Linked DNA regions of Homo sapiens: region 2 is linked to region 1. The links come from fine-mapping of genetic effects on plasma protein levels. A gene starts in region 1. The other region holds a variant in brackets. All regions are shown on one strand. Distances are between the middles of the regions. Region 1 holds the start of CNPY4 (canopy FGF signaling regulator 4). Region 2 has its middle 3.0 kb from the start of COPS6.

Evidence for each region. A credible set is the group of variants that fine-mapping cannot tell apart. PIP is the chance, under the fine-mapping model, that this variant and not a neighbour inherited with it causes the effect. The UK Biobank Pharma Proteomics Project read protein levels with antibody pairs (Olink). The fine-mapping took linkage between variants from a reference panel, not from the people measured, so its PIPs are less certain.
Region 2: its variant is the best candidate, but not a certain one, in a credible set for the plasma level of the CNPY4 protein (UK Biobank, PIP 0.53).

What each region holds. Positions count from the first base shown.
Region 1 is chr7:100,118,221-100,121,240 of GRCh38, forward strand. CNPY4 (canopy FGF signaling regulator 4) reads left to right here and starts at 1,414. Exons shown (of 6, transcript NM_152755.2): 1 at 1,414-1,642. The coding sequence starts at 1,525. TAF6 (TATA-box binding protein associated factor 6) reads right to left here and starts at 1,138. Exons shown (of 15, transcript NM_139315.3): 1 at 984-1,138. RefSeq lists enhancers at 1,091-1,240, 1,451-1,670, 2,041-2,110.
Region 2 is chr7:100,084,737-100,087,236 of GRCh38, forward strand. No RefSeq gene overlaps it. Among named protein-coding and RNA genes, the nearest start is that of COPS6, 3.0 kb to the right of the region's middle. RefSeq lists an enhancer at 2,353-2,500. The variant C/T (reference allele first, on the strand shown) is at 1,303.

The DNA.
Region 1 (3,020 bases):
CGGGCGCCTGTAGTCCCAGCTATCTGGGAGGCTGAGGTGGGAGAACCGCTTGAACCAGGAAGCGGAGGTTGCAGTGAACCGAGATCGTGCCACTGCACTCCAGCCTGGGCGATAGAGAGAGACTCCATCTCAAAAAAAAAAAAAAAGCAAATTGGAGCCAAGAGAGGTAACTCACCCCAGTAATCCCAGCACTTTGGAAGGCAGAGGTGGGGGGATTGTTTGAGGCCAGGAGTTTGAGACAGCCTGGTCAACATAGTGAGACCCCCATTTCTGCAAAAATTAAAAAATTAGACGGACCTGGTGGTGTGAACCTGTCATCCCAGCTACTTAGGAGGCTGAGGCAGGAGGATCGCTTGAACTGAGGAGTTGGAGGCTGCAGTGAGCCAAGATGGTGCCACTGCACAACAGCCTGGGTAACAGACGGAAACCCTGTCTCAAAAAAAAAACAAAAAAAAATTAAAGTGGCACACTTGCAGTTGGACATTAGGAAGATTAACATATCAATACTGCTTAGGAGTAGTACAGGTAGGGTGGGGCCGTGCTGGAAGGATGGGAAGAGGGAGGCCGAAAAACAAATTGGTTCTTTTCAAACCATCCCTGATCTCCTCCCCGACTTTTATAAGTCTTATCTATAGGGAACACAACTATTCGAGACATACTCTGTGCCTGGCGCCGGGTTTACAAGAGGGGGTCGTGTCCCACTTCCCTGGCGAACTCCTACGAATCCTTCAATACCCGGCGGTACCCTCTGCCAGTAAAGGCTCATAAAACACGCTACAGTCACAGGATCTCCTCAGATCAGTGGAGGCGGCAGGAAGGCGTCCCAGGGAAGGGTTAACTTAAGCGAGATCCCAGCAGAGAAGCAGGTCGAAGATCCCCGGGCAGCGCGAAAGGAGGTTCAGAGAGCCCACCCCATCTCCTGCAACATCTCTCCAATGCAGGCACACACACGGGGTCCCCACGAGCACAGACACACAACCAACCGTCCTCTTTCCAGTCCCCACAAGGGACCTTCAAAGGGTCTCCTCCGGGGTACCACTCAGACCCGCCCCCGCCACCCGAGCGCGGGGAGCAGGAAAACTCTAGCGGCAGCCGAGACGCTGCTCACCCGGCGCTCGGCGCCATCTTGGCCCCGCCCCCTCGTGGGAGCAGGTCCTGGCAGAGCCTAAGAGCAAGTCACTGCCCCTTCCCCGTACCAGAATAAGTCCTCTAGGCTCGCAGAATGAAATTATATTTTAAAAGTTTGTTTCTACATCTATATATAAGGAGCACTCCCTCTTGGTGTAATTACTGCAATTTATTCCTTCACTACCCGGCTGCCAGGACCTTCAAGAGGCGCCACAAAACGGAGGCAGGGAAACCCGTAGCAACGAGGCCCCACCCTTGTTGGGCTGATCCTGCGCATGCGCCGACCTTCCTCGGCTGGATTTAAGGTTGCCGCTAGCCGCCTGGGAATTTAAGGGACCCACACTACCTTCCCGAAGTTGAAGGCAAGCGGTGATTGTTTGTAGACGGCGCTTTGTCATGGGACCTGTGCGGTTGGGAATATTGCTTTTCCTTTTTTTGGCCGTGCACGAGGCTTGGGCTGGGATGTTGAAGGAGGAGGACGATGACACAGAACGCTTGCCCAGCAAATGCGAAGGTATTTGAAGGGGGTAGCCCCTATAGGCATCGCCCGGCCACACCTCCTTCTTCTAGGCCGGACATCCTAGCCTGTATTGGGTGGGTCACCCGACCTCCTTGAAGGCTTGAGGGAGGTTCTGGTGGAGCTTGGCTGAATTTGGATGGGGTCAAGGAAGCGAACGTGTAGTGCCACCTCAAACTGCATCCAGAGAGAGCCTGCATTTTTTTGGCTGGCTTGGAACCCCCCGCCCGCCAATGGATTGTGGGAATTGTAGTTCAGGGACCATCGGCCCGGGACTGCCAACTTTTAGAGCATCTTCAGTGAGTGTTTACCTCATGTCACCAGACCTTAATCTGCAGAGGCTGCAGGAGCCGGGTGTGAGGCTCAGGCCTTGTGGACATCCGCTGCCCTACCCTAGCATAGACGCTCCCAAATTACAGGCCCCACACCCCGCTGAGGGGGTTTGAGGGTGAGTAATTCAGCCTTTGAAGCTCATAAACAAAAGGAAGCCACACAACTAGGAGAGTGTCCCCATCCGGTGAGACTTTGCAGACGGTGCGTACTATATGGATTTTTCAGCAAGCAGCGCCTTCCATAGCTGCACTAGCGTGGGGCCCAGTTGAGAAAGGGGGCTGGCCCTGATGCCCTAGTTTGCTGCCCTCCTGACTTTACGTTTCTTCCCTGGATTCCTTTTCTCTTCGCTTCACCCCCTCAACTGTATTCCAGTATCATGAAAGGCAGTCATGACAGTCTCATGACTTGGTCCTCATCTCTGTCTCCTTTCACCTCCGTGTGCCGCTCTTCTCCCCTGACCTGTCAATCTTTTTAAACAGACTTAATCACCTAATTGTATCAGTCCTTGCTTTAACACCTCTGCAGGCCTTCTATCAGAATACAGCCAACGGGCCTGGGCACAGTGGCTCACATCTGTAATCCCAGCACTTTGGAAGGCCAAGGTGGGAGGATCACTTGAGCCCATGAGTTCAGGCCCAGCTTCACCACAGCTTGTCATCCTTGGTTTATCTGTCCCAACTACACTGACAGAGACCTGTAGATAGAGATAATAGGTCTTATTGCTGTCTATATTGTTAGTATGCATACAGAAGGAGCTCAATAAATAACTGCAGGATAACAGTGAATACTTATACAGTGCTCACTATGTGCCAGCCTTTATATATGTTGATTTATTTAATCTTCATCACACTCCTATGAGGGACATACTATTATTATCCAATTGTATTAATTTTATATATATATATATATATATATATATTTTTTTTTTTTTTTTTTTTTTTTTTTTTTTTTTCTCTTTTCAGACAGCGTCTCATGCCGTTGCCCAGGCTGGAGTGCAGTGGTGCAATCTCGCTCACTGCAACCTCCGCCTCCCGGGTTCAAG
Region 2 (2,500 bases), 34 kb before region 1:
GCATTTGCAGTCCCAGCTACTTGGGAGGCTGAGATGGGACAGTCACTTGAGTTCAGGAGGTTGAGGCTGCACTGAATTGTGATTGTAACACTGCACTCCAGCCTGGGTGACAGAGCAAGACTCTGTCTCAAAAACAACAATAACAAACACAAAACAAAACAAAAACAAAAAAAAAGAAACGTTTAGCAAACTTAGTTCTAAAATGCGCACAATCAACTGATTCAATGTCAAAGTCATCCTTAAATTCCACAATAATCTCTTGTTTTATGAGCTGTATAATTATCTGAACAATGTTTCAAAAGCACCTGAAACAACAAGGCAAAGGAGTTCTTTAATGTGTGAGAGAGCAGTGCAAACGATCAACTTTACTAACCCTAGAATAATTCTCATCTTGTTTTTATTTTAGCCTTCTATCTAGCTGAGAAGCACTATGCTCCTTGGAAGCTGCCTAGCATTCTTTAAAGAGAGACATTTTTCTGGCCAGGCACGGTGGCTCACACCTGTAATCCTAGCACTTTAGGAGGCCGAGGCAGGTGGATCGGTTGAGGCCAGGAGTCTGAGAACTGACTAGCCAACATGCTGAAAACCCATCTCTACTAAAAATACAAAAATGAGCCAGGTGTGGTGGCGCAAGCCTGATATCTCAGCTACTTGGGAGGCTGAGGCACAAGAATCACTTGAACCCAGGAGGTGGAGGTTGCAGTGAGCCAACATCTCACCAAAGAGATACATTTTTCTGACCTGGTTTTTCCAAATAGAAACAAGGCATTAGGTACTTTTCTTTGACAACCCTCTCAGTTTGTCCAGACCTGGTTGGTTTATCACTGGGGACTAGAATAAAATAAATTCCTTTTTAACTTCCCTTTGGCGAGAAGACCCCTCTTCCTGCAGGATTTCTCAAGTCCGTTCCATTGAGGGTTGCTGGCCCCTTCAAGTTTCCTTCATCCAGGCTCCTAAACGGAGAGATTGCATAATTCCCCTGTAAATTACAACTATCACCATATGGGGCTGTTCAGGGTCATAACACAGTTCTTCACCTGCTTTCTAGGAGCTTACACTTTGGGTGGGGATACAGACACCTAGAGCCAGAGTATGTCTGGCTCTTTCTAGGTGTCTGTACCCCTCTTTGTAGGGGTGGCAGGAGGAGCAGTGTGTGCAACTTGCTTAGGTTTAGGGGTAAGGAGGGGGTGGAGCAGCCTAGGCTAGCCAGATGTGAATTTTGGGTTTTTTTATGAGACAGAGTCTTGCTTTGTCAACCAGGCTGGAGTGTGGTGGTGTGATCTCGGCTCGCTGCAACCTCCG[C/T]CTCCCGGGTTCAAGTGATTCTCCTCCCTCAGCCTCTCGAGTAGCTGGGATTACAGGCATGCACCACCACGCCTGGCTAATTTTTGTATTTTTAGTAGAGATGGGGTTTCACCATCTCTACTGGTCGAGACCAGGCTGGTCTTGAACTCCTGACTTCAGGTGATTCACCCACCTCGGCCTCCCAAAGTGCTGAGATTACAAGCATAAGCCACTGTGCCTGGCCAGGAACTCAGTATTTAAGGGAAGAAAGCATGCAAGAGGAAAATAAGGAAGAAGGAGAGGCAGTGAGGCAAATGTTTTTTGTTTTGTTTTGTTTTGTTTTTCTTAAGACAGTGTCTCGCTCTGTCAGCAGGCTGGAGTGCAGTGGCGCAATCTCGGCTCACTGCAACCGCTGCCTCCCAGGTTCAAGCGATTCTTGTGCCTCAGCCTCCCAAGTAGCTGGTACTACAGGTGCGTGTCACCATGCCCAGCTAATATTTTGTATTTTTAGTAGAGACGGGGTTTCACAGTGTTAGCCAGGATAGTCTCAATCTCTTGACCTTGTGATCTGCCTGCCTCGGCCTCCCAAAGTGCTGGGATTACAGGCGTGAGCCACTGCACCCAGTCCAGCAAATGGTTATTTTATTTTATTTTTTGAAATAGAGTCTCAATCTGTTGCCCAGGCTGGAGTCCAGTGGGTCCATCTCGGCTCACTGCAATCTCCACCTCCTAGGCTCAAGTGATTCTCCTGCCTCAGCCTCCCAAGTAGCTGAGATTACAGGTGGGCACCACCACACCCAGCTAATTTTTGTATTTTTAGTAAAGATGGGGTTTTGCCATGTTGGCCAGGCTGGTCTTGAACTCCTGGCCTCAAGTGATCCACTCGCTTCCCAAAGTGCTGCGATTACAGGCATGAGCCACTGCACACCCTGCTGCACATTGTTACTTTTTTGTGAGTTTCTCATTAGTGTTCAGTAAATCTACATTTTATGTAAGATACAATAAACATTTGAAAAGAGGGAGTGGAGGAAAAAGTCAGTTATGCATCTGTCTCAGGATAGGTGGAGGGATGATTCCTGGTCTCTTCCTTGTTCTATAATTGGGAAGATAAGCTTGTAATCAACATTGTCAGTATGAGATTTCACAGAACTCGGATTAGGGCTGGTTTATAGGGGGAATGTTTATGCTGAAAGATTCAGAGGCTAATGAGGAATTTCCT